Linked DNA regions of Homo sapiens. The protein of the gene in region 2 purifies or fractionates together with the protein of the main gene of each other region. This does not show direct contact. Each region holds a gene or a part of one and is shown on either strand. Other genes may lie near its edges.

What was found.
Region 1: the proteins of CHD7 (region 2) and SOX10 purify together in Homo sapiens (affinity purification with western blotting; one study listed by BioGRID). This does not show direct contact.

What each region holds. Positions count from the first base shown.
Region 1 is NC_000022.11:37,974,556-37,978,055, forward strand, and holds part of SOX10 (transcription factor SOX-10), read right to left. Parts: coding exon 3,312-3,500; intron 1-3,311. UniProt on the Homo sapiens protein: Transcription factor that plays a central role in developing and mature glia.
Region 2 is NC_000008.11:60,737,740-60,741,239, reverse strand, and holds part of CHD7 (chromodomain-helicase-DNA-binding protein 7), read right to left. Parts: intron 1-3,500. UniProt on the Homo sapiens protein: ATP-dependent chromatin-remodeling factor, slides nucleosomes along DNA; nucleosome sliding requires ATP. Probable transcription regulator. May be involved in the in 45S precursor rRNA production.

The DNA of each region.
Region 1 (3,500 bases), on a different chromosome or scaffold from region 2:
TTGGCCAGGGTTGTCTTGAACTCCTGACCTCAGGTGATCCACCTGCCTCGGCCTCCCAAAGTGCTGGGATTACCATCATGAGCCACTGCGCCCCACAGCATTTGTTTAAATACTGGTGTCTTAGATTGATCTCTAGTTGTTTATGAAATTCTCAAATCTTAGGGATGGGTCCTGGGGAGGCCTGCCTCATTCTGAAAAAACCTTTCCTGTGGAAAGTTCTTCCTCTCATCAGCTTCTCTGCTGTCCAGGTGGTCTGGCCCAGCCTTTGCGCTCTGCCAGCCCCGCTTCCACACCCATGCCTACTGTCTTCCTTGCTGAGCCTCGCTCGCCCAGGCTCCTGAGTGCTCTGTTTCACCTTTGCTGGTTGCCTGGGCCTGCTCCCTGTCCTGGCCTCATGTTGTGTCCTTTCCAACCCTTCCCTCCTCCTGAGCCCACCCTGCTTCCCAGCCCACTGGCAAGCCCTTAGCCCCGTCATACGCTGGCCTGTGTTGCCCTGTTGTTCTTTGAGCTGCCTTCCTCCATGGGAGGGCACTTAGAAAACTGGTCCTTGTTCCTTTGTCTGTTCACTTTCCTATTCACATATTAATTTAGCAAACTCTTAGGGAGCATTACAAAATGCCAGGTACTGTGCCAGGTGCTGGGGATACTAATGTAAATAAAATGGATCCCTGTTCCCAAAAGCTCATAGTCTAGTCATAGATCCATAGATCCACATGCACCCAGAGTTGGAAGTGCTGTGGTGACAATATGCAAGGACTTGGGAGACCAGAGGAGGAGTCCACCCGCTGCCTCAGGGATTTGGGGAAGGTTTGATCAGGGAAGGATGTCTGAGTGGGGTGGGGCCTTGAAGGGTGAGAAAAAGTCTGTGTCCAGTTTCATTCTGAGGTGGTTGCTCTGTATGTGGTCCAGGGTCTCCTGATGTGTGTGTGTGTGTCCCTGAATCTTTGAAGGTGAAGAGTATGTACACGTGTGTGGGAGGGATGACTGCCTGGCATCCCAATGGAGACAGAACATGTCCATGGTCTTAAGAGACTAGGAGCTCCCCAAGGACAGGCCTGTGCCTCCTTCATCAGACCAGAGGCAGCGCCAAGTCCTGCATTGGCCAAGGGCTCTGTACTTCAAGAGACCTGCCTAGGCTTTTGAATCCTGGTTCTGTGTCTGGACAAATCCCCAGTCTTCTCTTAACTAGTTTCCTTATCAGTAAAATAGAGATTGTACCAAGCAGCCCAGGCATTGCCTCTTTCTGGAAGCCTTCCTTGACAAGAGTCTGGTGGGCAGTGGGGTGTTCTTGGAGACCTGACTGGATGGGATAGACGGCCATGCCACCTCTGGATCTCACACAGACTTCTTGTGCACTTGTTTCTCTCTCTATATATATACTATATATATAGTAAGAGATAGGAGGCTGGGCGTGCTGGGTCATGCCTGTAATCCCAGCACTTTGGGAGGCTGAGGTCAGGAATTCGAGACCAGCCTGGCCAACACGGTGAAAAACCATCTCTACTAAAAATACAATAATTAGCTGGGTGTGGTGGCGTGCATCTGTAATCCCAGCTACTTAGGAGGCTGAGGCACAAGAATCGCTTAAACCCAGGAGGCAGACGTTGCAGTGAACCAAGATGGCACCGCTGCACTGCAGCCTGGGCAACAGAGCAAGACTCCATCTCAAACAAAAACAAAAACAAAAAAAAGACAGAGTCTTACTACATTGCCCATGCTGGTCTCAAACTCATGGGCTCAGGTGATCCTCCCACCTCAGCCTCCTGTGTAGCTGGGACTGCGGGCGCATTCCACCATGCCTAGCTTTGTTTCTTCCTGTACTTAATTCACTCGTTTTCATCCCTGCTCCTCTCTCTAGACTATGGGCCCCTGAGGCCAGGGACTGTAGGCTTCTCTGGTTAGTACCCCTGGTGTCCACTCCAGTGTTTGACACAAAGTAGGACTCAGAGCGTGTCCTCTGAAGGCAGAGCTCTGCTCACTGAGCACTTCCCATGTGGCAGACCTGTGTGTGTCACTTTCTGTACATTAGGAACACAGGCAAGGCAGCTGTGGTGCCAAGCAGATGCCCGGGAGCCAAACTGGGGAAGTTCCTGTTTGTTTCTCATCAGTAAAATGAGAGTAACTTGCCACAGCTGAGATCTGAGCCCAGGCAGTTTGGGTACCTCATCACATTGTTTGCAAGGATTGAGTTAGTATACATAAGGCAACTAGCACCTAGCACAGTGCCTGGAACAGAGTAGCTGCTCAATTAAGGTTAGCTGTTATTATCATTAATGAAAATTAAACAAGATAGCTTATGTCTGGCCCATCCATGGCCAGACACGGTATCACATGCCATGTCTCCTCTGTCAGAATGGCTGGTGGGATTTGGGAGGCCGAGGCGGGCAGATTGCCTGAGCTCAGGAGTTTGAGACTGGGCCTGGGCAATATAGTGAAACCCTGTCTCTGCTAAAATACACAAAATGAGCCAGACGTGGCGGTGTGCACCTGTAGTCCCAGCTACTTGGGAGGCTGAGACAGGAGAATTGCTTGAACCCGGGAGGAAAAGGTTGCAGTGCACCGAGATCATGCCACTGCAGTCTAGCCTGGGCGACAGAGTGAGACTCTGTCTCCAGAAAAAAAAAAAAAAGAATGGCTGGTGGGAAAGAGGCAGTGATTTCCTCTCCTCCATTTGCTCTTCCATTTCTCAAAACCATCCTGTCTTCTCCCCCTTTACTTGTAACTGCCCCAGCCACCTCTCACTCCATGACCTCCACAGAGTCTTTTTTTTTTTCTTTCTCTTTGAGACAGAGTCTCGCTCTGTCGCCCAGGCTGGAGTGCAGTGGCGCGATCCCGGCTCACTGCAAGCTCCGCCTCCTGGGTTCACGCCATCCTCCTGCCTCAGCCTCCTGAGTAGCTGGGACTACAGGTGCTCGCCACCACGCCCAGCTAATTTTTTTTATTTTTAGTAGAGATGGGATTTCACCATGTTAGCCAGGATGGTCTCGATCTCCTGACCTCGTGATCTGCCCTCCTCGGCCTCCCAAAGTGCTGGGATTACAGGTGTGAGCCACCACACCCGGCGGCCTCCACAGTCTTTAACTGGCCCTCTTTGCCCAGTAGGATCAGCCCTGGCCAGAGCCATCTCACCCAGCCACTTCCCCTGGCACCGGAACCCCCATGGAGCTCCCTCTGGGCCCCTGCAGCTCTGCTGGGGCAACTGCACAGCCTGGCACGCTCTCCCTAGAGTCCAGGGTCTCATTGCCATCCAGCCATCTCCTGTCTCCACTGACTGGCCTTGCCCCACCCTCAGCTCTGTCATCAGCACTCACCTGAGGGGTGCTCGGGGTTCCCATCTGACATGGGGGAGCCCTCTCCTGGGTGCCGGTGGTCCAAGTGGGCGCTCTTGTAGTGGGCCTGGATGGCGGCGGTCCCACCTTGCTCGGCCTCCCCACCGGGGCACTCCGCCTCGCCCTGGGCGGCCTTCCCGTTCTTCCGCCGCCTGGGCTGGTACTTGTAGT
Region 2 (3,500 bases):
GGGGGAGAAGAAGGAAGAAAACAAAGAATTAGGATCCAATGATAAAAACTGCCAGTATTTTGTACATCTGAATTTGGTCCCCATCAACAATACGAATCTAGCTCCCTCGCTGAGCTGTATTTTATAAATTTAGTTCACTTTAAGAGAAACTCATTAGCTTCTACCAGAAGCATCATTATGATCGGTTACTTAGAAAGCAAGCAAAACACTAACCTTAACCTTAAATTAATCCATTCACTACACTTCCTAGCGTTCCATTCTTGGATGAAACAGAACAAAAGAACACAACGTGAAGCAGCAGCAGCTGCCACAGCAGGCAAGCAGATGTATGAATATAGCCAAGCAGCTCATCTGCTGAACTAAAGCCCTGGAAATGCTCTGGTTACCAACAGCCCGCCCTTAACCTTATTCCCCTGAGCGGTGTAATCAGATGAGCAACAGCAGCACCAAGGGCTGTGAAAAGCTCAAGTTAGTTAAATTGACTAGAGGATTATACAAATACCAAAATCGGTCATTTCATACAAATTAGATATTTACAGCCCACATACAACTATGTAACTGCAACAGAGGCATCTAACAAGAAAGTGTTCATAATGATGTTGAAAAGCAACCTTGAGAACAGTACAATAAATTCATAATTTCATTATGTTTAATGGCAGAAATATACAAGATTCAGAAAGAAACTAAAAGAAAAGCTTTCATTGTCCAAGACGACCAATTTCACTCATGGCTCTGAGCCTACCATGGTCCCAGTCTGCACTGACACAGAGCAGCCCAATCACCAGGCTCATTATTCACCCGCAGGCATGCTGGGCTCTGGTGGACCAGAATCCCACGTGACCACTCAGAGAAAACTAGTTGAGTGGATACTTTGTGGACACCAACTATTCTCATAACTAGAAATACAACTTTCTCCAAAACTGAAAATTATTTTTACAGAATAAAGTTCAAAATATGCTCTCCTCACCATTGCCTTAAGTCCTTTTGGGACAAGGCAGGACCTAAGCAGGAAGGGAGACAAGTTGGCAGGCACTTGTGTTCGCACCCTACGTGCTTCCAGCGCACTGTGTACACTATGTAACATGCTGCATCTTATTCAAACTCTTCCTAACAGATCCTGTGTCAGATTAAAATAACTAATTTAAAGAATGCGTTGACAATCTAAACAGGAAAGTGTTTTTGTTGAACACTAATTAAATCAACGGCCTAATAAAGACCTAATTCATATAGAGAAAATGACTGAAATCTTAAACATCTTTGGAATTTAACTCATTTTTTTCTCTTTTATAAGGACATTAAGCATTGTGTGATACTAGCTCACTTGAAAAAAACAATATCTTGTTGAAGAATTTCCAAAGTGATGATAAAAACAGGCTCAGTCATAAATTCTACTGACACCCTTCCATAAGAGCATGGGAATGAACAATGGGCTAACCAACACTCCTGAGAACTTACCAGTAAGACACATAAAAATTCTGTTTCTGCCTGCCGTATTCTAACACATTCCTAACAAGGGGAGAATTTTGCTTACAGAAAATGTAAACAACATTCCTGTTCACTGTCAGAACTACAGACATAACACCTGAGAGGGTCTCCAGGCCTGTAGTTTTCAGGTGACAGCTGTCAACTAAAGTCAAAGGTCTCTTCACTCTGCCGCTAACTGCCATGAATTTTCTGATCTACTTTCTCCAAATACAGAGGTCAGATGGGTGAAAATAAGGTGAGCATGAAAGCTATTTTACTGAAAACACGCTGCTTTACTATACAACTATTTTAAAATCCAAAATAAAGAGAAGTAGACATCTCCAGTGCCAGTTGCAACAAATATTCTTAAATACACTCCTAAGAAGGCTAAGCAGTCAGTCATCATTTATTCAAGGCTCATTCTAACTTTCAAAGAAATAAATACTGGAATGGACTTGATAATAGCTTAAACCAGCCATGCAGCCCAACCACTTACCAAAATAACCTTTCAAATTAGCTTAAGGAAAGTAACGTCTACATATGTGTCCTGGGGAGCAGCTTCATCCTCCAGGGTCCGCCAACTGTTATGGGAAGAAATGCTACTGACTCGATGGGGCTCCAGGCCAGCTCCAGGTAAAAGTGAGCCCAGAGGGAGTGGATGGCTTAGCCCACTGGTGACCTTCTCTTGCAAGCCCACTGAGCTCAGAGGCAGAGGCAGAGTCAGATCAAGCTTGGAGAAGTGGCGATGAAGTTGGTGCTAACTTTTTATCAGCTTAAGATTCAGAAGAGGGACAAGTTGCCTATGCGCATGAGTAGGGAAAAACAGCCCTGCCTGAGAGTACCCATACTGATCCTTGGCTGTGCTCCTCTTCCTGTTCCCTACGCCCTTCTACTAAGTGTCCATCTCCCAGACGCTTGAAAAACGCCAGCATTATATGGTATCAACTAAGCATGTCGCTCGGCACAACTACAACCATGCTCAGGTAAGGTCCAGGCAGAGAAGTTCAAAAACTGGCTTTGCAGTCTGCCATTAGTGACCGCTCACTGGGACAGCCACCAACGCCTTCCTGCCCCTTTTCTGACCTCAAGACCCAGCTGGCAACTATGCCAGGAATCCATCTGGTAGCTGCATTTCATATTTCTGATTTGAGATAATCTAATTAATTTGTTTTGGTCCTTTTTTTAAATTTGATCAAGACCATCTGAATGCCCACTTTCCCAAGTCGCAGCTGCATTGTATAATTTTGTGTTTCTATAAAAGATATTCATTCAAAGCCCTATTTTGAAAGCTTCCCTCTCGTCTACACTCAATATCTAGATTTTCTGTGTCTAGATGAACACTGTTCAATGGGCCACAAATGCGAGCTATTACATGTAATTTTTAGTTTTCTAGTAGCTACATTTTAATAGTAGACCAAAAGAGTGAAATCCATTTTACCAATTTCTATTTAAACCAATAAATGCATAATACTGTCATTTCAACAGGTAATCAATATAAAAAAATGAATAAGCTAGTTTACGTATTTTGGTATTGAGTCTTTGAAACCCAGTATGTAATTTACACTTACAGTACATCTCAATTCCTATTAGCTACATTTCAAGTGAAAAAATGGACATATGGGGCTGTGGCTTCCATACTGGACAGCATAAAGTATTTAAAAAGAAGAAACAGAAATAACAAATTAGCAATGAAATTTTTTAAAGTCTCATAATTATCACCTGGGTAATAAACATTCAAGTTGCATTTATGTTTTATTTGGTGTTACATAAAAATTAACTCTCAAATCACAATTATTTATTCAAAATGTATTTACTGAGCACCTACTATGATCCAGGCACTAGTCTAAGAGCTGGAGAGAGATCTGTGAATAAAACAAAATTCCCTCTTGTCCTCATGGAGCTTATATATCTGTAAATGATGCATCTCTTAAATAAGAACTAAGATTCAGGGCTTATGTTATTAAAAATATAGGTTGCCATTTTACAAAATACTCCTCGGTAACTTCTGATGAGGAATAGTCTAACTAAATGTGAGA